Linked DNA regions of Homo sapiens: all the other regions are linked to region 2. Evidence: fine-mapped expression QTL. A gene starts in region 2. Each other region holds a variant in brackets. All regions are shown on one strand. Distances are from middle to middle.

Region 1 (8,174 bases), 77 kb before region 2:
GGCAGTGGGGGCAGCAAAAAATTCTGCAAGTTCTATTTCTCCCACAGCCCTGCGGCCTTGCAGGCTCAGCCAGCAGCTCTGGTGTGTTTTATCTTACAAAGCATGACAAAAACCCTCTGCCTAGGAAAGGATGGGCGGGGCGGCCAGGACACCCTGCCAGCCCTCTCAAAGTGTCTGGGTAAGAACTGCTGAGATGGCCGGGCACAGTGGCCCATGCCTGTAATCCCAACACTCTGGGAGGCCTAAGGTCAGGTGTTGGAGACCAGCCTGGCCAACATGGTGAAACCCTGTCCCTACTAAAAATACAAAATATATTTTGTGTTTGAGCCCAAGAGTTGAAGGCTGCAGTGAGTGAAGTGCAGCAATGCACTTCAGCCTGAATAACAGAGCAAGACTCTGTCTCAAAAAATGAAAAAGGAGGCTGGTGCTCTTTCTCCAGTGGTCCTGAACCCAGAGTGACATCCTGATGCCTTGGGGCACCAAAGTTGGCTTGAGCCCTGTTTATCCCCCGAGTCTAGGAATTCAAAGCTGCAGTGAGCTATGAATCCTCCCACCTCAGCCTCCTGAGCAGCCAGGACTAGAGGCATGCACAACCATGCCCAGCTAATTTTATTTATTTATTTATTTTTGGTAGAAATAGGGTCTTGCTGTGTTGCCCTGTCTTCAAGACCTGCCTTGGTGTTACCTGAAGCAGCTTGAACTTCTGTATGTTTGTAAAAGGAGCCCAAAAGCACTCACCTGACACAGAACCCTAGGCCCCATCAGAGGCCTGGAGGCAGGGCGGCCTTCCCTGGGCAGAAACAGATTAGGCCTTAAAAACAGACCTGGAATTACTACACCAGCAACCTTCTCATCTTAGGATATATTTCCACAGGATTAATAGCTGGGTGTGAGGACATTTACTGTCTAATTAGCACAGGAGTTTCTAGTAGTGAGAGAATCAGTCAATTGACCAATCAATCTGGTATTCATTGGGCACATTCTGTGTACTGCTTTCTCACAGGGCTTCCTTCCTATAGAGATCTAGGATTCTTCGGCATCTTGCTTCTTTTAAACCTTGCTGTGGTTCAGTTCCTTGTTCTCATCCCTGGCTGTACATTAGAATCACCTGAGGAGTTTTGAACAGCATGTCAGAGCCCTTTCCAAGACCAGTTAAGTCAAAATCTCCATGGACATGGGTCCAGACATCATTCTTTTGATGTGCAGCTGTTGGGAACCACATAGTTACATGGATTGCCTCGCTCCCTCTTGTCTTTGAGATATATGGACAGTGCTTTCTCTCTTCAGTATCAGTTGCCTGGTATGTCACTCTCCATTCTTTATTCTCAACCTTCCTGTATCATTTAGTTTCAAGTGTGTGTGTCTTATAAAATGGCATATAGCTTGGGGAAGGTGTGTGTTTTGTAATCTCACCGGAGAGTCTTTTATCTTTTAATAGGCAAAATTAACTCATTTACATTTATTGTAATGACTAATGTGTTTGAACCTACTCCACCATAGTGCCCTATTTATCATGCTTTCCCTTTGTTTCCATTTTGCTCTTTTCCTGGTTTTTACTGGATTGAGTATATTTTCATCATTAAAGTTAGATTATAAGGCCTAAATGGAACACAGTGGATGAAAATACCCTGGTGTAAGTGATCTAAAATCTTTGTTTTTGGTTTTTTTTTGTTTTTTTTTTTTTTGAGACAGAGTCTTGCTCTGTTGCCCAGGCTGGAGTGCAGTGGCACAATCTCAGCTCACTGCAAGTTCTGCCTCCCAGGTTCACGCCATTCTCCCGCCTCAGCCTCCCAAGTAGCTGGGACTACAGACGCCTGCCACCACGCCCGGCTATTTTTGTTTTTGTATTTATCGTAGAGATGGGGTTTCACCATGTTAGCCAGGATGGTCTCAATCTCCTGACCTCGTGATCTGCCCGCCTCGGCCTCCCAAAGTGCTGGGATTACAGGCATGAGTCACCGCGCCAAGCCAAATCTTTGTAATTATACCCATTGGGGTGTTTTTCCTTAACCTACCTACTAGCTTACAAGCTTTTGAATAGTTGGGATTTACTCATCTTTTGGGAGAGGGCCTTCTGTTGTCCTTAATTCCAGGCCTTACATAAGCTTGGGGCTCCATAAATAGGTGTGAAATTGAGCAGGTATTTTATAGCATGTGGACAATTCATATCTCTGGGGGCTTGTTAATGGTGAAGGGCCTGTTGCCAGGGCCTGTAAGGGGCAGAGAGATGACAAAGAGTTGGTGGGGTGGGGTCGAAAATTTATTTGGCAATTACTGAATATCTAGAAAGTGCCCAGTTGGGGCTGCAGCAGTTACAAGCATAGACCTCTTACTAACCTATTGACCCTGAGCAAGTGGTCTTCCTGAGGCTCAGTTTCCTCATCTGCAATGGAGCTATGATAGCACGTACCTCAACTAGTTGTTATAAGGATCAGAGATGAAACCTGCTTCCGGTGCTAGGGTAGGGTGTGGGCCAGGAAGGTGCTCACTCAATGGCAGTTGCTTCCGCCTGAAAGGTCTGTTTGGAGGGACAGGCTGGGAGTCCCTTGTGGGGACAACTTAGGAGAATGACTCAGTCTCCGTTTACCATCACTAATCCTTACCCAACCAACCACTGGGATTAATTGTACTGATGAAAATGACAACAAACTGTAAATCACTCTGCTTCCCTGGGTGGTGAATGCCTGGTCCCATCATCCTGTCTCTCCGATGTCTCTTGTCCCTTTGTCTGTAAGGGGTGGGTGTGGATTGATACTGATGTCCCCTTTGTACTGAGAAGGTGGCTTTTTGAAGCCCGTCTTCATGGGTTCGAATCTTGGCACCACCACTTCCCAGCTGTGTAAACTCGGACCAGTTTCTTAACTTCTGTGAGCCTCAGTTATCTTCACCTAGAACACAGAGACATAAGAGTTACCGAATTGCATTAAAACATCTGCTCAGTTCAACACCTATTTATTGAGCCCAGCCCTACGCAAGGTGTGGAATTAAGGTTATAGAAGGGCCCCCAAAAAGGTGAGTAAGTTCTTTTTGTCCAAAAATTTAATAGCCTAATAGGTAGGATTAAGAGCCCCAGTAACACTAAGGGTGGCTACTTCCTAGGGCTATGAGACGTCAATGGGTGATGCACAAAAGGACTGAGCGGTCGCTGGGCACCCAGTAGGTGCCCTCAGTGTTGTTACTATTCATCAGTTATTTCCTGAGTGTCCACGGTGGTTGCCTTTGTGTCAGAGCCAGGGCAGATGTTTCAGGAGCCAGGCAGTGTTTAAAGAAGGTAGGGGCAGAGGGCTACTCGGCACCGGAGGTGCACCTCCCCCAAGCTGGCCCTCCAGGCAGGCAGGACGCCAGAAGAGGATGACCGTGGTGGCAGGAGGCCCAGCCCCTTCTCTGGGCTCTGGGACAGGTGAGGCTGGTTCCAGGGAGGGGTGTACCCTCCTGTGCGTTCCAGACATTCCAGCAGCAATGCAACCCCAATACACACCCACTGAGACAGAATTAACCCCCAGAGGAAGGAACTGCAGATGTGATCAAAGGCCAGTGGCCCTGGCCAGGCAGGGAGTGCTGAGCCTGCAGGGACCTGTGTCCACACATGGGAGGAGAGTGCAGGCTGGGCTGTGAGCCAGCAGGGGACACAGCAGTTCTGGGCGACAGGGACAGCTGGGGTGGAGGTGATGGCAGGAACGTGGCCCCTCCGATGTTGCTAAAGTATGATCTGTTACCGGGGTGGCTGCTCTCGCAGCCTGGAGAAGGGGATGGCTGTGAGCAGGCCAGGTGCCTCCAGCACAGCCCCATGGCCTATGGACAGGGTTGCAGGGGCTCTGGGGACCTGGGGAAGGGTGTCTTGCTGCGGTCTTCGTGCCAGGGTCCTCCACACCCAGGCACCAGGCTCCAGTGGGCACAGTGGGGAGCCCCAGGTTGTTTTGGAGTCAGGCAGCCAGGGAGGGACCCACAGAGGAGACCCTGTCCTGGGGCAGACATCTAATCAGTGAGTGTGGGCAGGAGGAGTCACGGGGTTCAAAGAGAATGAGCATTTATTAGGTGTCCCTGGGTACCAGGCACCGAGTGAGACTGGAAGATGCTCTGAGCGCCCATCAGCTTTCCTACAGCAGAACTGAGAGACTGTGGTCACTGCGGGCTTAGAGCAAAGCAGGTCCGGGTGCCCCAGAATCACCTAGAATCTCGCAGTCCTATTCAGTAATTACTGGCCCCGTGACATGGGCTGTGCACGTATGTCTGTGTGCCAGGGTTTGAAGACTTAGTGT[G/T]AAAAAGAGAATGTAAAATATCCGTTAATAATGTTCTGTTGACCACCTGTCAAATTGATCATATTTTGGATATATTAGGTTAAATAAAATAGAAAAAAATTCGCTCATTTCTTCTTACTCTTTTCACGTGGCTACTAGAAAAATGTAAATTCTGTGTGGCTCAGGTTCAGTTTCTGTTGAACAGTGCTGGCCTTGCATACAAAGCAACTTAATACCTGAACTCCTGTGGGAATGTTTTCCAGCTGTTGAGTGTCTTTCTGCTTGTTCCGTGACAAGCAGGCATGATAACCCCATTTATGTTGAAAGAAATTAAGGCTGAGACAGGTGGAGTAATACATGCTGTTATTCCAAAAGCCAGCATAGTTCATTCAGTCTGATGGGCGCTACGGACATGGCAGTGAACAACAGACAAAGAGCCCTGCCCTGGCAAGGCCCCCACCAGTGACACGGAGGAAGAGGATGAAACCCAGTTATCCTAATCATGGTGCGGCCACACCCAAAGCGCTTTCATTTATAAGGGTTATCTCCTTGAATTATCTCAACCCTCTGCAGTGGGATCAATTCCTATCCCTGTCTCAGAGATGAGGAAACTGAGGCACAGAGAGACTAAGGAATCTGCCCGAGCCCACACCTGGGTTAGAGCCACAACACAGGCTACGTTCCCTGCCCTGGCCAGGCTGCCTCAGTTTCCTCCCCTGCAGGCAGGGTAGAAAGAATGGGCCAGTTGGTGCCATGTGACTTGAACAGGTACAGCTGAAGACATCAAGGGTGGCTCTTGAAGCCACCCCCACCCAGGGAGCCCCCTTCCAGGTCGCTGATGGCTGGAAGGTTGCCATTCATGGTGTCCTTGGAGGGTCCACGTCTCTCCTGGGGGCAGGAGGCCGGGAAGCATATCTCCCCAACTCTTAGGTCTTTGTATGATGCAACCAGATCATCCCATCATCCAAACTAAAACTTACCTGTGCTCCCAAATGCTCTCAGAAAAGAGAGTGGGTGGCTGTTGCATTGGGCCAGGTAAGAAGTGGTGACTTTGATCAAGGTGAGGCCAGAGGGGCAGATGGAGGAGGATGCGCAGGAGACGCGTTCCCAGGTAGAACCAGTGGAGGGAGAAGCAGGGACAGGTCTCAGGGATCTGTTGGCATAACCGGGTAGACAGGTCCTCCCCACCCTCCCCTTCTGCAGTTTCCCTTATGCGGACGGAAGAACGTTCTCAGAGCAGTGGGAACACCCTGTACCCTTCAAATCCCCAAACCTACTGACTCTGATCCTTAGCCCAAACCCAAGACAGCTGAAGCGGGCTGTGCGTTTGTCCCCCAGCTAGGCCCAGGGAGTGGGCATCTGGGACGCAGGATCTCCTGTCCTCCCGACACCTCATTACCCATATATGGGCACCAGCCTCTCCTCGCAGATGTTGGAGGAGATGGTTCCAAATTCTGAGGTTAGTTGTGAATTCCACGTGCCCCGGCAAGGCAACATTCACAGGGCAGAAGCAAAGCACGTCTGGGCTTGCACCAGGATCAGCGTGAACAGTGTGGACGGCCGGGGGTCTGCTTTCATCTCCCAGGTGCTGGAGGATTCTAACTTCAGGCCTTGGCTTCTGGCTTTTTGTTTGTTTCTAGGGTTTTTTTGTTTTGTTTTGTTTTGAGATGGAGTCTTGCTCTGTCACCCAGGCTGGAGTGCAGTGGCACAGTCTCGGCTCACTACAACCTCCGCCTCCCAGGCTCAAGCGATTCTCCTGTCTCAGTCTCTCCAGTAGCTAGGATTATAGGTGCCCACCACCATTCCCGGCTAATTTTTGTATTTTTAGTAGAGACAGGGTTTCACTATGTTGGCCAGGCTGGTCTGGAACTCCTGACCTCAGGTGATCTGCCCACCTCAGCCTCCCAAAGTGCTGGGATTACAGGCATGAGCCACCACGCCCAGCTGGCTTCTGGCTTTTATCAGCTCCTTAAAAGGAGCCTAAATCCCTGGATGGTGGACCCAGGTCAAGGCAGAGCCGGGCTCCTCAGAGGCAGCACCCCATATCTGTTCTCTCAGTCACCCCCACCACAGCCCTGTGGCATGCATACTGTGATGACTCTCATTTTACAGCTGGGGAAACTGAGGCTCAGAGAGGCTAAGTAATTTACAGTTTATTAAGAGCAGAGGCAGGATTTGACCCCGGGCTGTCTGGCTTTGGTCTGGGTGCTTAACCACTGGGCCACACTGCCCTTCCAGCTGAAAGAAAGTGCCAGTGGCACCCGCACAAAATTAAAGCAGGAAGAGAGACCCAGGAGGTGGAGAGCGAGGGTCCCCCGAGACACCTGTGTTATCTTTCTCTGCCCACGTGGAGCATCGGTGGTGTGTCAAGGCCAGGGTGCTACCTCTGTCCCAGCTCCTCTCACGGGCATCCCTGCTGGCCCTCTGAGGACTGTGTGCTGTCCTGGCGGCCAGGACAGCACACAGTCCTAGGTTCGAGTCCCAGCTCTCCACTTTGCAGCTGGGCTTACTGAGCCACTGGGTCCTCAGCCTCGAGTTGCCACCTCTAATGCAGGCTGGGGCCAGGCACAGTGGTACACACCTGTAATCCCAGCATTTTGGGAGGCCGAGGCGGGCAGATCACTTGAGGCCAGGAGTTCGAGACCAGCCTGGCCAACACGGTGAAACCCCATCTCTACTAAAAATACAAACATTAGCCGGGCGTGGTGGTGCATGTCTGTAATTCCAGCTGCTCGGGAGGCTGAGGCACGAGAATTGCTTGAACCCAGGAGGCAGAGGTTGCAGTGAGCCAAGATCATGCCACTGCACTCCAGCCTGGGTGACAGAGTGAGACTCAGTCTCAATCAATCAATAAAGCAGGTCGGGCTGTGTCTACTGAGGCTCTGACTCCTGGCGACAGAGCCAGGAGACCTGATGCCATCTGAGGCCCCCAGGCCCCCTCCCTAGTGGTTCCTCTGCTCTGAGTATGTCCTGGGACACAAGAAGATGGCTGTTCAGGCTCAAGCCTGCGGGCTCAGACCCAGGAAGCCCTTGTCTGGTCCCTGGGAGTACCCTCAAACACAGCCCTGGAACTCCGAGGAGGAACCGGGCAGCCTCCTGACCTGCTGGTTCCATTTTTCCTTGCTTGCATCAAGAGCCTCATATGCAGACCAGGCCAAGAAAATGGGGCTCTGTGAGACTGCTCAGGATTGTCCCAGACTCTGGCATCCCCAGCCCAGAAGGAAAAAGCTAGGGAAAAACAGCCTCAGTCGACTCGAGGTGACTCGTAGAGGCTTGCAAAACCCATCTAGCAGGCAGCCCCTGACCCACAGCGTCAACAAGGCTGAGGGGGCTGTTTCTGCTGCCAACCAAGTTCTGGGTCCTCATTCAGGCCCACTGGTGAAACAGCCAGCAAGGCCCGAATTGTATAAACAATGTAAATGAGCCAGGCACAGTGGGCTCATGCCTGTAATCCCTGTACTTTAGGAGGCCAAGTCAGGAGCATCCCTTGAGCTCAGGAGTTTAAGACCAGCCTGGGCAACAGAGAGAGACTCCATGTCTACAAAAAAATTAAAAAATTAGTTGAGGCCGAGTATGGTGGTTGACACCTGTAATTCCAGCACTTTGGGAGGCCGAAGCAGGCAGATCACCTGATCAGGAGTTCAAGACCACCCCGGCTAACATGGCGAAACCCTGTCTCTACTAAAAATACAAAAATTAGCCAGGCATGGTGGCGTGCGCCTGTAATCCCAGCTACTCGGGAGGCTGAGGCAGTAGAATCACTTGAATCCAGAGACGGAGGTTGCAGTGAGCCAAGATTTTGCCACTGCACTGCAGCCTGGACAACAGAGCAAGACTGTTTCAAAATTTTAAAAAGAGTATAAATGATCTCAAGTCTGTTTCAGGGACGCTGCTCTGAACCTCCAGTTCAGTCCTTGAACCACAAAGGTGTCTTTG
Region 2 (8,174 bases):
GCATCAATCACTAAACAATCCTTCCTTCCTCTGCTGATTTGGCATATATTGCAAAGCAACATCACAGATATCTAAGGCCTGTTTCTGAAGTCCATGTGTCATATTAATACGGTATTTAGAGATTCTTTAATCAGTATTGCACTGTTTTGTAAAGTTTCATACTTTAATGTTGCAAAGTTAAAGCTCATGTTTATTATCCTTCTTTATAAATAATACTTTGCCATTCCAGCCTATGTATTATTTTGGCAGGTTTCAAAAAAACTCACTGTATTTTGGTTGTAAATCAATCACAAATGTGAGTTAATTCAGGAAAATTAGCATATATCGTATATATCCACATACATGTAGACGTATTTGTATATATCCAATATTCATTTGTCGAATTATGATCACAAAATCAACTTATAACATCACATAAGGGAACAAAATATCTACAAATGAAGAGTTAAAATAATTCTAATCAGGCGGCAAAACGATTAGCAGTGTAACAGGCTGGCGCTGCAAAAGACCATCTCCCAACACGTACTAAGATGTTAAAGGAGATTTCCCTAAAAGAAATCTCCAAGGCCCTCAGGATATTTGTGATGCGCTGGGTTGTGGAAATAAATCCCAGCTGAAGGCTTACAGATTCCCCCACTGATAGAACCGGAACAGTCTCACTATAAGAAGGGAATCAGCAAGTTAACCAATGGGATGCAGGAAGGTCATCCTTGAATTGGCAACCAGGTCCTACTCCCCCTGTCCAGGCAGTAAACACATAACCTTATCTCAGTCCAAGTCTGAGAGACTGCAGCTTCAATCCTAGATGGCAAAACTGCTCCTTTCAGTTGCTTAAGTGACTCTCCAGGCCCAAGAAGGTAAAAAATAGGACTACAGGATAAAGTGAGTCAAATCTGTACTCTATTACCACTTAGATTTGGGGTTGTTTTATAATCATTATAATGTTCTGCTGTTACTAAGCCATTTGAAACATTTAAGAGAATCCAATATATTTAACAATGGTACGTTAGACTTACAATCATAATTCAAAATGCTTAAGAAAATATAATTAAGTTCAAACATGTTTGAATGCTTAAAAAAAACTTACATTTATCTATTAGACTTACGAGAGTTGCCTAAGTCCTTGGAAAGATTTTAGCTTTTTTTGTGGTTTTTTTTTTTTTTTTTGTGAGACAGTTGCCTCACTCCTGTTGCCCAGGCTGGAGTGCAGTGGCACCATGAGAGCTCACTGCAGCCTCAACTTCCCGGACCCAGCACTTTGGGAGGCTAAGGCAGGATGATCGCTGGAGCCTAGGAGTTTAAGACCAGCCTGGACAACATGATGAGACTTCATCTGCACAAAAAAATTTTTTTTAAATTAGCCAGGTATGGTGGCACACCCCTGTAGTCTTGGCTACTAAGGAGGCTGAGGTGGGAGGATGGCTTTAGACTGGGAAGGTCCAGGCTGCAGTGAGCCGTGATCCTGCCACTGCACTCCAGCCTGGGCGACAAGAGTGAAACTCCGTCTCAAACAAAAAAAAGAAAAAAACAAAGATCCCCCTTTAAAAACCTCAGTTGGTGTTACTGAGAAAATACTAGCCTTCCTTGTCCCTTGGTTATCCTCAGCAATTTTTAATTTTTTCTTACTATATATATATATATCTCCTTCTAAACATTGTATTTTCAAACTGGTTATTGATGAAACAGAAAAACTAAATTGTGCATTCCAACTTATAATGAGTACCCTTCCTGAATTCTTATTTTAATGGGTTTTTTGGTTTTTGTTTTTGTTTTCAAAATAGGCAGACCTATCATCCACGGAAATGAGAATTCTGTCTTCCCTTTTCCAAAAATTGCATTTCTTATTTTTGTTTCCTGTCTTACTGCACTGGCTAGAACTTTCAGGTTTTAGGCAATATATTCTTATTATCTAATAGTGGTAGAAATGTACCATGTTTCTGATGTTAAGGGGAATGCCTCTAGGTTTTGGTGCAATGTTCATTTGAGATTTTTTTTTCTTTTTTCTTTTTGGCGGGGGGACGAGTCTCGCTCGCTCTGTCGCCTAGCTGGAGTGCAGTGACATAATCTCGGCTCACGGCAACCTCCGCTTCCCGGGTTAAGCGATTCTCCTGCCTCAGCCTCCCAAGTAGCTGGGACTACAGGCATGCGCCACCACGCCCGGCTAATTTTGTATTTTTAGTAGAGTACTGGGTTTGACCGTGTTGGCCAGGCTGGTCTCGAACTCCTGATCTCAGGTGGTCCACCCGCCTCGGCATCCCAAAATGCTGGGATTACAGGCTTATACCACCCTGCCCGGCCAAGATTCATGTTTTTATTTAAGTTATTAAAATCTCATTCAATTCCTCACAAATTCAGAATTTTTAAACAGGAACTTATGTTAAATTTTTATCAAATTATTCCCTGGAATCTTAAATACGCTTTAAAGATCACTTTGTCTTAAAAATACACACGCAGTAAATGACAGTCCGTGCAGCTAATTCTTGGTACTTCAGGGAAACTGATCTCCCAAGAAAAATCAGGCTGCGGGACGACCCAGTACGCTAAACACCGACTTGCAACCGAAATCTCTAACCACCACAATGCCTTGGGGAAATGCGTGTCGACTCGCCACCTTTGCCAGCTGGCAGTGACTCAACAAGAGCCCGACACCAAGTCTAAGTCAATCCTTAACACTGTGGAGTCTGTGATCGGGACTGGGATCTTTTGCAAAATTGTGATTCTACCTGGTCTGCTGAAGTTTGGGCCGACGCTGCGCTCAACTGCAGTTAACACTTCCCAGTTCATGGTTCAGTTTTAAAGTGTCCAAACTACGCCCGGCATCTGTCTTCCTGTTGTCACAACTTTTTCAAAAGTGCAAAACTAGGGCAAGGCTAACGAGAGAGCCCGGACCCGACAACGACACGCACCTTTGTCCCCAGCGCCGACGCGGGCCGCAGACGTCCCCCCGCGGCGGTCCTCATGCCGGTCCCCGGGCGGCGGCGCAGCTAGCGGTCGGCTGCTAAGCCGTGGCTCCCAGCGGGCGGGCGGCCCGCGCCTCGGCCCATGGCCGGGTCCCCGAGCCCAGGGGAGCCTGGTGTGCCGCGCCGCGCGCCGGCCCAGGAGGAAGCGAAGAAATGCCAACTCGACGTCCGCGCAGCCACTCCGGGGACACCAGGGGGTCGGGGGAGCAGCCTCCGGTCGCCCCAGGAGAACTTGCGGCGCGGGACCCCGCGCTCAGACGGCGCCTCCGAAAGCGGCCGTCGGGAGGAGCGCTCCAAAGAACACGGGCGGCGGGAGCGGACGGGCGCGGACACCGGGGCCTCCCGGCCTGCGGCCAAGCAGAGTTGCCGGGCGCGGGAGCCCAGACCCGGCGGAGGCTGAGTTCCAGGCCGCGCCGAGCTCCGTCAGGGTAGCTCACTGGCGCTGCGACGGGGCCGACCAGCGCCTCGGGCTCGGGAATGGCCCCGGGGCCCGCGCCGGACCAACGGGCGTAACGGAAGCGCCGAGAGGGGAGGGGCGCGGAGTCCAAGACCCGGGGGCGGGGCGAGCCGCGAGGCCGGCTCCCTCTCGCGCTCAGCCGGTCGCACCGTCGCCGCCGCCGCCGCCTCAGACCGCGGGCGCTTCGTTGTCACGAGCCGAAGGGAGGGGGAAGGAGCCGGGAGTCTCTGCGCTCCGGCGCGCGGAGACCGCGGCGCTCGCGTCACGTGCCCCTCGGTCGACCAATGATCCCCGGCGGGCGCGGTGACGTCAGAGTAGCGGCGTGGCCAGTGACAGCCGGCCCCCGTCACGTGGTCGGGCCCACTCCAATGGGCGGCGCCGGGGCGACTTGCTGTTCCCGGCGGCCCGTGCGTCGGCGGTGGTTGGGTGGTAAGATGGCGGCTGTGAGTCTGCGGCTCGGCGACTTGGTGTGGTGAGTCCGAGCGGCCGGGCCAACCGAGACGCGCCGGGGAGCTACCCGCCTGGGCGCGGGGTTCGCTGCCGGCCCTGGAGCTGCCTTTTTATGCGCTCCAGGTCGCGGAGAGAGGGGAAGAGAAGGTGCCGGCGCTTGCGAGCGGCGCCAGGCGGAAGGGGCAGTCCAGTCCCGGGGGACCGAGGCCGAGGGTGGCCACGTCGGGCACCGGCTTTGATCCCCGAGGCCGGCCGGGTGGGGTCTGCACTCGGGGCCCAGATACTGGCGGCCCCCGTGAAGGGAGCCGCCGGTGCCGCGAGGCTTCCCCGGACGACCGGTCCCCGGGGTCTTGTTGGGGCTTCCCAGAAAGCAGAAGCGCCGGGGACCGGACCTGCGAGATCTGGCCGGTGCCATTCGGTCAAAGCCCAGGTTGCGATGCAGCCGACCTGTGCGGCCGGCTCAGCCGGGGTTGTCTAAACCGGACTGCTGGCGTTGCCCCGCGAAGAAACGGCGGGGGGACTTCTCCTTTACAACCGATGGCTTGGCAGTGACCAGTGCACGCTTGGGTGCCTCCCGCGGTCTGCTTCTGTGTCCCAGACAACCGCCCGAACCAAGACTTTGTCGCCGCCTCCCTCGAGCTGCGTAGCTTGTTTCTCCACCCAGAGGAAGGCTTCCATTAGCATTTGTCAAAGCCAGGCAGGTCTCCTGTTGAATTAAACCAGACTTAGGGAGGGAAAGTCTGTGTTTACAGAGGAAGCTGTCCTCCCACCCCCGTCATTAAGAAGCTCTAGACAAGTGACTTTTGACAGTTGTGTTGTTCTGTATTCCTTGTCAACAGAAGAATGGATATGCGTTGTGCACATAAGTATACAATTTTGCATTTTACTTCTGAGGGTGTTGGGCCCAGCTATGAAAGCTTTTGTTTCGGCATTTGAGGATGCCAGCAGAGATTTAGGAAAATAAATTGCGTATTGAGTGGGTTGAAGGAGATGGACTGGCTTTTGCAGGGCAAGTGTTGACTCTTTGTGTTTTCTCTAGGGGGAAACTCGGCCGATATCCTCCTTGGCCAGGAAAGGTGAGTGTCTTGCTACTAAAGGAAGAGATCTGAAGTTGGGTTTGAAGAGGTGGAGAATGTAAGATGCATTCCTCTCAGTTTCTAGTATTGAGTTAAATTGGGCTCATTCAGATGGCACTTAGAATTTTTTTTCCCCTAGTATCGGTTATTTTTTAAAAGGCAATGCAGTATACACCAGATCATTAAATCTTCTCTAAACCCTTATTTCTGGATTTAGAGGAGGTTTATGAAGTTTCTTTTTTAACCCCGGAAATAATTCTAGTCTGAATTTAGCTTTATGCTTAAATGTAACAAAAGGAGAAGAAAATATAAATTATCCAGGAAGAAAGTCTAAATGTAGGTTAGTGAAAAGCCAAAGTATTTTTGTCCCAACTAAGTTTAAATCTTCTTTCCATGTTACCATATGTGCTACTCCAGTGCCTCTTTGCAGAAGTTGGCATTCCAGATTTTGCATGAGGTGATCCATCATTGCTTTCCAAATGTTGTGTTTTTATATTCTTGCTTGGAGCCCGGGAGGTGTCTTTAGATGGTCTCTTTGCAATATGGTGTTTTCTGTGCCTCGGTTGTCCTTTGTTTTCACTATGTCCTGTGTCAACCCTTCCTGCACAGGAAGTATTTCAAAGAGTGTCGTCTGCATTTTTTCAGTAATAATGGGGTCACATTGGAGCAGGGGTGGGGTGGTGGGGGGCAGGGGATGCTGTTGATCTTAGTTTTAACTGCTTGTAAAACAGGGCCACTGCAGTAAAAGGGATATTGTGTCTACTGAGCACTGTGCTACATGTTAAATATTGGGAACTTCTAGAATATCTACACATTTCCATACACCTCAATAGAAAAATGGGAGATTTAGACAAGTACTAGGCCTTGGGTTCTGTTTTGTATATAAATAAATTTATTTGTAAGTAAGTCCTTTTAATTTACTTTTTTCTTAGCAACGTAGAACTGTAGAGCAATGTGGAGCCACTAGAAAGTGGGCTGCTGTGTTGCCAGCCAACCTTTTTCCCCCCTTTTATCCTCCAGATTGTTAATCCACCAAAGGACTTGAAGAAACCTCGCGGAAAGAAATGCTTCTTTGTGAAATTTTTTGGAACAGAAGATCAGTGAGTAGTACTCACCAGGAGTCTCCCTTCGCCTTTCTTTCTGTGTTACCTGGAGTCTGAGCTGCTTTGAAAATATTCTAAGGATCCTTAGTTCAGTCTTCTTATAATGTGTAATACTGGCATCTCATTCTGCCTTCATACCTAAATAAAGGTGCAATTTCTTGCAGAAATTGCCCTAGACAACTGTCCTAGGTCTATAACTAAGTCAGGCAAGAACTAGGTTCATTTACCTTCTAACTATAACAATCACATTGAAACAGTTTCTCACATGTTTCTTTACCCAACTCCAAAGGCAGTTCCTTTTTGTTTGTTTTTGAGACAGAGACTTAGTCTGTCACCCAGCCTGGAGTGCAGAGGCAGTCTCAGTTCACCGCAACCTCTGCCTCACTGACTCAAGCGGTTCTCTCACCTCAGCCTCCCGAGTAGCTGGGACCACAGGTGTGCACCACCATGCCCAGCTAATTTTTTGTAGAGGGGGTTTTACCATGTTGCCCAGGATGTTCTTGAACTCCTGGACTCAAGCAATCCACCTGCCTTGGCCTCCCAAAGTGCTGGATTATAGGCGTGAGCCACTGCGCCCAGCTGGCAATTATTTTTATAAAAGCCATGTTCAGTTCTCTTTTAATGCCATATATCATTATGGTTCATGCTTGGGGTATACAGTGGAAACTTTTATTTATGTTAATAAAAGTAATTGTTCAATCATGTTCTCATGTGTAAAACTAAGTGATTTGCTTTGACATTGTTATAGTAAGTCTTTTTACCAGATCTGTCCTAAGTTGGGGAAACCAGGACCATTAATCTGAGACTCTGACCATATAACATGTTACAGTGACGGGAAGAACGTGAAGAACCTGTATTAACTTGAGTTGCTAGTGATTTGTTTAGCTTTTTATCACTATGTCAAGTGGCTTACCTGGGTCTAGCTAGATGGTTTGATTTTTTTTTTTTTTTTTTTTTGAGATGGAGTTTCACTCTGTCACCCAGGCTGGAGTGCAGTGGCATGATCTCAGCTCACTGCAACCTCCACCTCTCGGGTACAAGTGATTCTGGTGCCTGAGCCTCCCGAGTAGCTGGGACTACAGGCGCACACCACCACACCCGGCTAATTGTTTTATATTTTTTAGTAGAGACGGGGTTTCACCATGTTGGCCAGGCTGGTCTCAAACTCCTGACCTCAAGTCATCTGCCCCTCCCCCCCCCAACCCCCTCAGCCTCCCAAAGTGCTGGGATTACAGGCAAGAGCCACCATGCCCAGCCGGTTTGATTTCTTTAAGTAGTTGTATTTCTATTTATTATTCTTATAGGAAAATACAGCCTTAGATTTGAAAAAAATGTCTGTGGCTTCTCTGGTAAATCTAATTCTGACGGTTAAAGTATTTCTACTTAGAAAGCGATATATTATAAACAGTATTCTTCACTCATCCAGGAGTTTATATGTCAGATGCTCTTCCTGGTTTCATGTTTACAGATAGACCCAGCCCCATTTCTCTATCACAAGCCAGCTTAGCAGCCTGTGGTGGCAGTATTTCAAGGAGATCGCTGGCCTGGAGCTGTGGAGCCAGAGCTTCTGGAAGAGGGAATGTTCTTAGAACTCCATGGATTTAAAAAGAAGATTTGGCCGGGCATGGTGCCTCAGGCCTGCAATCCCAGTACTTTGGGAGGCCAAGGTGGGTGGATCACTGGAGGTCATGAGTTCGAGACCATCCTGGCCAACATGGCAAAACCCCGTCTCTACAAAAAATACAAAAATTAGCCAGGAGTGTTGGCGTCTACCTGTAATCCCAGCTACTTGGGAGGCTGAGGCTCGAGAATTGCCTGAACCCAGGAGGCAGAGATTGTTCGAGACCCTGCACTCCAGCATGGGTGACAGACTGAGACTATGTCTCAGAAAAGAAAAAGAAAAACAGGAAAGATTGTCCTCATGCATAACATCAGTGTTATGTGTCCACTTTCTGAATTGCTTGACACTGAGGGAATTTATAAGAAAGCAAGTATTATAGTTCCCACCTTCCAGATGCTCAGTCAAGTGACAAGTTGTAAACATTTCAGATAAGATGATGTGCACAATGATGGTCGGGCATGGTGGCTCATGCCTGTAACCCCAGCACTTTGGGAGGCCGGGGCAGGC
Region 3 (8,174 bases), 42 kb after region 2:
ACTGTATCCAACTTCACATACACTTTCGAAAAGCTTTTTAGGGTAGAAGTTCCGCTTTCTTAGCTCATCTTCATAGAATTTGAATCTAAAAAAAAAACAACTGAAAAACATTTGTCTTTACCATATTATTATAATAAAAATGACACTTTGTGAAACAGCAGCTGTATTTTTAAAGTACTATCAGCTGATACACTTTTATTTTATGTTATTTTATTTTATTTTATTTTATTTTAGAGACCGAGTTTCACCCTTGTTGCCCAAGCTGGAGTGCAATGGTGTAATCTCGGCTCACTGCAACCTCTGCCTCCTGGGTTCAAGTGATTCTCCTGCCTCAGCCTCCACAGTAGCTGGGATTACAGGTGCCTGCCAGTACTCCTGGCTAACTTTTTGTATTTTTAGTAGAGATACGGTTTCACCATGTTGGCCAGGTTGGTCTCAAACTCCTGACCTCAGGTGATCCACCCACCTCAGCCTACCTAAGTGCTGGGATTACAGGCGTGAGCCATGGCACCCAGCCAGTACTGTTCTTTTGACACCTGGCTTTTCATAGTATAATTCTCTGTTCCTGAATTGTATTTTTTTTTTTTTTTTTTTTTGAGACAGAGTCTCACTCTGTTGCCCAGGCTGGAGTGCAGTGACATGATCTCAGTTCACTGCAGCCCCCACCTCTTGGGTTAAAGTGATTCTCCTGCCTCAGCCTCCCAAGTAGCTGGAACCGCAGGCATGCACCGCCACACTTGGCTAATTTTTGTATTTGTAGTAGAGACAGGGTTTTACCATTTTGACCAGGCTGGACTCGAACTCCTGGCCTCAAGTAATCCGCCTGCCTTGGCCTCCCAAAGTGCTGGGATTACAGGCATGAGCCACCGCATGCAGCCTTGTTCCTAAATTCTGTCTTCTGTCTCTTGTCTGTTTCAACATTTCAGAGTACTTATTTCATGACTCTTTCAGATTACATTACTATTTCAAGTCCCCCCTGTTCATTCTACCAGTGGATTCTCTCTGGATAGTAGAATTCGTTGTGTATTTTATAAGTCTTTTTTGATGAAAGCTCATTTCTGACTATAGTTATTTCCCAAGGGTTTCATGTGGCTTGGGCTGGGAAAGCTTCTCTTTGAAGTGACTTCCAAGTTGCCTCCACCCTGACTACAGGATTCATTGGCTTGGAAGCAGAGTTTTTAGGTTAATTTCTCAATGCAGCTCGCTGCTTTCAGGTCGTTTGGATGGTATGAGCTTAGACTCTATACTGTTAGGAGTTCAGAGGTTAGGTTCTGAAGGTTAACTGGTGCATTGACCTTTAGTAGTTGTATTGATATGTGGTTCAATTTGGGGCTGCCATTTTATCATTTGATTTCTGTTCGTTGTCTTTGTCTTTTGTTTGTTCCTCCTTTCTTACTTTCTTTTTAGAATTCCAGTTTCAGCTGGGCACGGTGGCTGACACCTATAATCTCAACACTTTGGGAGGCTGAGGCGGGCAGATCACCTGAGGTCAGGAGTTCGAGATCAGCCTGGCCAATATAGTGAAGCCCAGTCTCTACTAAAAATACCAAAAATTAGCCGGGCATAGTGGCGGGCACTATTAATGCCAGCTACTCCGGAGGCTGGGACAGGAGAATCACTTGAACCCAGGAGGCGGAGGTTGCAGTGAGCCGAGATCGTGCCATTGCACTCCAGCCTGGGCGACAGACCAAGACTCCGTCTCAAAAAAAAAAAAAAAAAAAAAAGGGGCCAGGCGCAGTGGCTCACGCCTGTAATCCCAGCACTTTGGGAGGCCGAGGCGGGTGGATCACGAGGTCAGGAGATCAAGACCATCCTGGCTAACAGGGTGAAACCCTGTCTCTACTAAAAATACAAAAAATTAGCCAGGCGTGGTGGCGGGCGCCTGTAGTCCCAGCTACTCGGGAGGCTGAAGCAGGAGAATGGCGTGAACCCGGGAGGCAGAGCAGAGCTGGCAGTGAGCCGAGATCACACCACTGCACTCCAGTCTGGGCGACAGAGCAAGACTCCATCTCAAAAAAAAAAAAAAGAAAAAAGAATTCCAGTTTCATTTATCTATTTTCTTTTTTACTTTGCCTCTGCATTCTTTTTTTAGTGGTTACTCTACAGATTGCGGTATAAATCCTTAAGATAGAGTTAATCTTGCCAGGCACAGTGGCTTATACTTGTGATCCTTGTAATCCTAGCACTTTGGGAGGTCGAGGCAGGGTCGAGGCAGGGTCGAGGCTTAAGCAAGCCCAGGAGTTTGAGACCAGCCTGGGCAACATAGCAAGACCCCCATCTGTACAAAAAAAAATAAAAAACTAGCTGGGCGTGGTGGCGAGCACCCTATTCCTAGCTACTTGGGAGGCTGAGGCAGGTGAGGCAGGAGGATTGCTTGAGCCCAGGAGTTCGAGGCTGCAATGAGCCATGATCCTACCACTGCACTCCAGCCTGGGCAACAGAGCAAGACCCTGTCTCAAGAAAAAAAAAAAAGACAGTTAATCTTGTACCATTTCCCATTAAATGTAAAAACTTTGCAACCACACAGAAGCATTTCTTTCCCCCTTCCTCTCCCTCATCCTTTAAGGCAGGGTTTCTCAACCTCGGCACTGCTGCCATTCTGTGTGGGGGGGCTATCCAAGCACTGCAGGATGTTGGGTAGCCCACCCACCAGACGCCAGTGACATAGCTCCTCCTCAGGTGACAGAAAATGTCTCCAGATATTACCAGATGTCCCCTGGGGGCAGAAGCACCACAGGTGTGAGAACTCTCACTCTGAGGTATAGGTGTCCTGGGTGTTTCATCTGCCCTTGTTTTATTTTTTATTCATTTATTTATTTATTTGAGACAGTTTTGCTCTTTTTTTGTTTTTGAGACAGAGTCTCGCTCTGTCACCCAGACTGGAGTGCAGTGGTGTGATCTCAGCTCACTGCAACCTCCGCCTCCCAGGTTCAAGCTATTCTCCTGCCTCAACCTCCTGAGTAGCTGGGATTACAGGCACCTGCCACCATGCCCGGCTAATTTTTTGTATTTTTTTTTTTTAAAGAAGGGGTTTCACGACGGTCACCAGGCTGGTCTTGATCTCCTGACCTCGTGATTCACCCACCTTGGCCTCCTAAAGTGCTGGGATTACAGGCATGAGCCACTGCGCCTGGCCCTAATTTTTGTATTTTTAGTAGAGATGAGGTTTCACCTTTTTGGCCTGGCTGGTCTCGAACTCCTGACTTCAGGTGATCCACCCACCTCGGCCTTACAGGCATGAGCCGCAGTGCCCGGCCAATGCTGAATGTTTTATATCCCATAGTGTATTTCATTCTCACAAGATCCCCCGGGTACTGTTCCTTCTCCCAGAGCAAGAAGCACAGTGGCTGAGGTCCAGAGAAACGGAGGTGCTTCATGCAAGGTCAACACAGGATTCCTAACCGGACAGCCTGGGCTCCAGCACTGCCTGCTGGCCACATCCACCACTGCCTCCAGGAATCAGGTCTAGGTCTTGAAGGCAGCTCTGGGGCCAGAGACTGAGCCATCTCTTTTTTTTCCAGGTGTACAAAAGAGCCAAGGCGCTGGACCAGTCTGACAACGATATGTCCGCCGTGTACCGAGCCTACATACACTAAGCTGTCGACACCCCGCCCTCACCCCTCCAATCCCCCCTCTGACCCCCTCTTCCTCACATGGGGTCGGGGGCCTGGGAGTTCATTCTGGACCAGCCCACCTATCTCCATTTCCTTTTATACAGACTTTGAGACTTGCCATCAGCACAGCACACAGCAGCACCCTTCCCCTGAGGCCGGTGGGGAGGGGACAAGTGTCAGCAGGATTGGCGTGTGGGAAAGCTCTTGAGCTGGGCACTGGCCCCCCGGACGAGGTGGCTGTGTGT[T/A]CACACACACACACACACACACACACACACACACACACAGGCTCTCGCCCCAGGATAGAAGCTGCCCAGAAACTGCTGCCTGGCTTTTTTTCTTCCGAGCTTGTCTTATCTCAAACCCCTTCCAGTCAAGGAACTAGAATCAGCAACGAGAGTTGGAAGCCTTCCCACAGCTTCCCCCAGAGCGAAGAGGCTGTAGTCATGTCCCCATCCCCCACTGGATTCCCTACAAGGAGAGGCCTTGGGCCCAGATGAGCCAGTACAGACTCCAGACAGAGGGGCCCTTGGGGCCCTCCAACCTCAGGTGATGAGCTGAGAAAGATGTTCACGTCTAAGCGTCCAGTGTGCACCCAGCGCTCCATAGACGCCTTTGTGAACTGAAAAGAGACTGGCAGAGTCCCGAGAAGATGGGGCCCTGGCTTTCCAGGGAGTGCAGCAAGCAGCCGGCCTGCAGGTGAGCATGGAGGCCCGGCCCTCACCGCCTCGAAGCCATGCCCCAGATGCCACTGCCACAGCGGGCGCTCGCTCCTCCCTAGGCTGTTTTAGTATTTGGATTTGCATTCCATCCCTTGGGAGGGAGTCCTCAGGGCCACTAGTGATGAGCCAAGAGGAGTGGGGGTTGGGGGCGCTCCTTTCTGTTTCCGTTAGGCCACAGACTCTTCACCTGGCTCTGAAGAGCCACTCTTACCTCGGTCCCCTCCCAGTGGTCCCACCTTCTCCACCCTGCCCTGCCAAGTCCCCTGCATGCCCACCGCTCTCCATCCTCCCTCCTCTCCCTCTTCCTCCCGTGGAGACAGTATTTCTTTCTGTCTGTCCCTTTGGCCCAGACCCAGCCTGACCAACGATGAGCATTTCTTAGGCTCAGCTCTTGATACGGAAACGAGTGTCTTCACTCCAGCCAGCATCATGGTCTTCGGTGCTTCCCGGGCCCGGGGTCTGTCGGGAGGGAAGAGAACTGGGCCTGACCTACCTGAACTGACTGGCCCTCCGAGGTGGGTCTGGGACATCCTAGAGGCCCTACATTTGTCCTTGGATAGGGGACCGGGGGGGGCTTGGAATGTTGCAAAAAAAAAAGTTACCCAAGGGATGTCAGTTTTTTATCCCTCTGCATGGGTTGGATTTTCCAAAATCATAATTTGCAGAAGGAAGGCCAGCATTTACGATGCAATATGTAATTATATATAGGGTGGCCACACTAGGGCGGGGTCCTTCCCCCCTCACAGCTTTGGCCCCTTTCAGAGATTAGAAACTGGGTTAGAGGATTGCAGAAGACGAGTGGGGGGAGGGCAGGGAAGATGCCTGTCGGGTTTTTAGCACAGTTCATTTCACTGGGATTTTGAAGCATTTCTGTCTGAACACAAAGCCTGTTCTAGTCCTGGCGGAACACACTGGGGGTGGGGGCGGGGGAAGATGCGGTAATGAAACCGGTTAGTCAATTTTGTCTTAATATTGTTGACAATTCTGTAAAGTTCCTTTTTATGAATATTTCTGTTTAAGCTATTTCACCTTTCTTTTGAAATCCTTCCCTTTTAAGGAGAAAATGTGACACTTGTGAAAAAGCTTGTAAGAAAGCCCCTCCCTTTTTTCTTTAAACCTTTAAATGACAAATCTAGGTAATTAAGGTTGTGAATTTTTATTTTTGCTTTGTTTTTAATGAACATTTGTCTTTCAGAATAGGATTGTGTGATAATGTTTAAATGGCAAAAACAAAACATGATTTTGTGCAATTAACAAAGCTACTGCAAGAAAAATAAAACACTTCTTGGTAACACAGCTGTGCCGCAGGAGTCCTGCTTCCCTCGTCCTCGGCGAGATGGGTGGGAGGAGAAGGCAGCGGCGGGGCCGGGGTGGGTTTTCGGGACCTCCGCGTCCGGGGTGAGACGGACTTGGGAGTGGCGGCGAGGTCCGCGGCAGGGTTGGAACCACGACCAATGGAGCCAAGCGGGCCAATAGGGAGGAGGAGCGGGGACAGACTGTCCTGCCGGCCAATGAGTGAGCGCGAGTGGAGCAGAGCGCCCTATCATATCCTGGGGGCGCCCCGGGAGCTCCGCCCCCAAGCGGGCGCCCCAGGCTGGTGCCGGCCGCGTCCCTGGCCAGCCGGAGCAAGCCTGACTCGTGCAGCCGCCGGCCGCGTCCCTGGCCAGGCGGAGCGAGCCTCACTCCCGCAGCCGCCAGTCTGGTTCCAGGGCTCCCGCAGGTTTCGGGGGCCGAGGCGGACCGACAGGCGCCAGCCAATCGCGAGCACGGAGCCGGCCTGGGGGCGGGGTGGTACCCGCTCCGCCAATCGGGTGGGGGCGGAGCCAGACGCCGGGGGCGGACGGGAGGACCGGAGGACCGAGGACAGAAAGATTGGTGGACAGGAGCAGCGGCCGGTGGGGAGGGCGCTCGGCGGCGGCCTGCGGCCATGGCCACCGTGATGGCAGCGACGGCGGCGGAGCGGGCGGTGCTGGTAAGGCGCGCGGGCCAGCGGGCGGGCCGGCGGGGCGGCGGGGCCGGGCGCGACCGCCGGGTCTGTCCCGCAGGAGGAGGAGTTCCGCTGGCTGCTGCACGACGAGGTGCACGCTGTGTTGAAGCAGCTGCAGGACATCCTCAAGGTAACGACCCGCGCCCTGCCCCGCCGGGCGTGGCGGCCCTCCCTCCTCATTTCCCTGGCTCCACCTGGGGCCGCGCGGCTGCGTCCTGAGCGCCTACAGTGTGCGGCTGCCGCGGCTTTCAGGCAGGGCCCCGCCTCCGCGAACTCGAGCCGACCTCATTATATAAGTACCTGTGTGCGGGCAGGGGCGGGTCCCGACGAGGGTGCTAGCAAGGGCCTGAGTCCCGCCCGGCCTCGGGTCGGGGAAGGCCGCCTTGGGAGCAGCGGCATCCAATCTGGGAGCCGAAGAATTCTGCCTCTGCCTGGCAGTGTGACTTCAGCCAAGTCACTGAACCTCCCTGGGCCTCCCTTTTCTCATTGGCAAAAGGGAGATAACAGTACCCGCTTCGCGAGGCTGGGGTGTAGATAAATGAGCCAGGCAGCTCACAGAAGTAACCGGCGTAGTGCTTGCTGTGGCCCAGGACCGCGGGTTACCATAACTACTGCCTTGTTCCCTGACTCTGCCCCTTGCCCCTTTCCCCCTCAACCAAGCTGGGAGGCTGCCCCTGTCTGTTTTGTATTCCCCGAGGCGGGCACACAGGAGGTGTTCAGGGAATGTGGTATAAGCAGAGATCGGGCTCACGGTTAGGTGCCCTGGGGGCTTGGGCAGGGTCTTCCCACCCCAGCTGAACCCAGGTGAGGCCAGGCCACGTTGTTCCTTCCCCCCGCTGACTTGGAGGGAGGGGGGCTTCTGGAAGGAGCACTGGGCCGGGCCTGAGTGGGCGCTACCAGCTCCCCTCCTTCCCTCTGTTCCACAGGAGGCCTCTCTGCGCTTCACTCTGCCGGGCTCCGGCACTGAGGGGCCCGCCAAGCAAGAGAACTTCATCCTAGGCAGCTGTGGGTGAGCCTGGGCTAGGCGGAAACCGGGGAAATGGGTACCTTGGGGGGTAGGAGGCATGGCCATAGCCCTGTCCTGCAGACCAGCTGGTTGTGCGATGGGACAGGAGGGGCAGCCCGCCGGGAGGGAGGGCTGGGTGGTGGGGGGGTGACCACAGGCACCGCTCTGACGCCACATGTTACAGCACAGACCAGGTGAAGGGTGTGCTGACTCTGCAGGGGGATGCCCTCAGCCAGGCGGTGAGTCCCCCGGCCCTGTCCCCTCCCATCCTGCCAATGGGGAAGAGCATGGGAGCTCCCACTTTCTCTCTGTACAAGCCCTGCGACTCTGGGCGGGACCCTTGATCTCTCTGGCCTCAGTTTTCTCCTTTGGAAAATGACAGCAACCCTCACACCTTCTCCCGGGATCGGTGTGCAGATTCAGTAAGAGGTGCAGGAGAGGGGTTCTTTGCACACGGCCTGGCCTGGCGTCCGGACCAGTGAAACATGGGCATTGGTGGATTAGGCTGGCCACACATCACAGTTGAATCAGCCAATGCCTGAACTCCAGTCTGCACCCGACTCTGTGCCAGGCACCAAGGCGTGGGGGGAGGCCCCCCTCCTGGGCTCCATCTGTTGCCCTTTGTAGACACTAGATGCACCCCGTTCGCACAGAGCCTCACAGAGGCTGCCTTTCCTCTTCCCCTTCCCCTTTCTTCACCTCTTTCCATTTCACTTCTTTGTGGCTCTTCTTGGGCCTGGTTTCCTGTTTCCTGACCTCCCTGTTCAACCCCCAAACGGCCAAGGCATTGGGAGACCCTCTGCCCTATACAGCGGCCAAGGCCTGAACCACCACACACCCCATTTCTG

What was found.
Region 1: its variant is fine-mapped to the expression of GLYR1 in whole blood (TOPMed, PIP above 0.99). The same link has a PIP of 0.9 or more in blood mononuclear cells.
Region 3: its variant is fine-mapped to the expression of GLYR1 in whole blood (INTERVAL, PIP above 0.99).

What each region holds. Positions count from the first base shown.
Region 1 is chr16:4,920,390-4,928,563 of GRCh38, reverse strand. All of the region lies in intron 1 of PPL (periplakin), which reads left to right. LOC105371064 (a long non-coding RNA gene) reads right to left here. Exons shown (of 4, transcript XR_933028.3): 3 at 5,219-5,391; 4 at 2,636-2,888. Among named protein-coding and RNA genes, the nearest start is that of PPL, 13 kb to the left of the region's middle. RefSeq lists an enhancer at 1-241. The variant G/T (reference allele first, on the strand shown) is at 4,260.
Region 2 is chr16:4,842,943-4,851,116 of GRCh38, reverse strand. GLYR1 (glyoxylate reductase 1 homolog) reads left to right here and starts at 3,829. Exons shown (of 16, transcript NM_032569.4): 1 at 3,829-3,889; 2 at 4,907-4,943; 3 at 5,964-6,043. The coding sequence starts at 3,852. It overlaps UBN1 (ubinuclein 1), which reads right to left and starts at 3,636. Exons shown (of 18, transcript NM_001079514.3): 1 at 2,907-3,636. RefSeq lists silencers at 2,956-3,045, 3,056-3,775 and enhancers at 2,828-3,670, 3,966-4,025, 4,326-4,385.
Region 3 is chr16:4,800,658-4,808,831 of GRCh38, reverse strand. ROGDI (rogdi atypical leucine zipper) reads left to right here and starts at 6,199. Exons shown (of 11, transcript NM_024589.3): 1 at 6,199-6,305; 2 at 6,379-6,450; 3 at 7,247-7,329; 4 at 7,511-7,565. The coding sequence starts at 6,261. GLYR1 (glyoxylate reductase 1 homolog) reads left to right here. Exons shown (of 16, transcript NM_032569.4): 16 at 3,522-5,629. The coding sequence ends at 3,596. RefSeq lists enhancers at 3,850-4,144, 6,191-6,691 and silencers at 5,692-5,903, 5,796-6,585, 6,626-6,685. The variant T/A (reference allele first, on the strand shown) is at 3,860.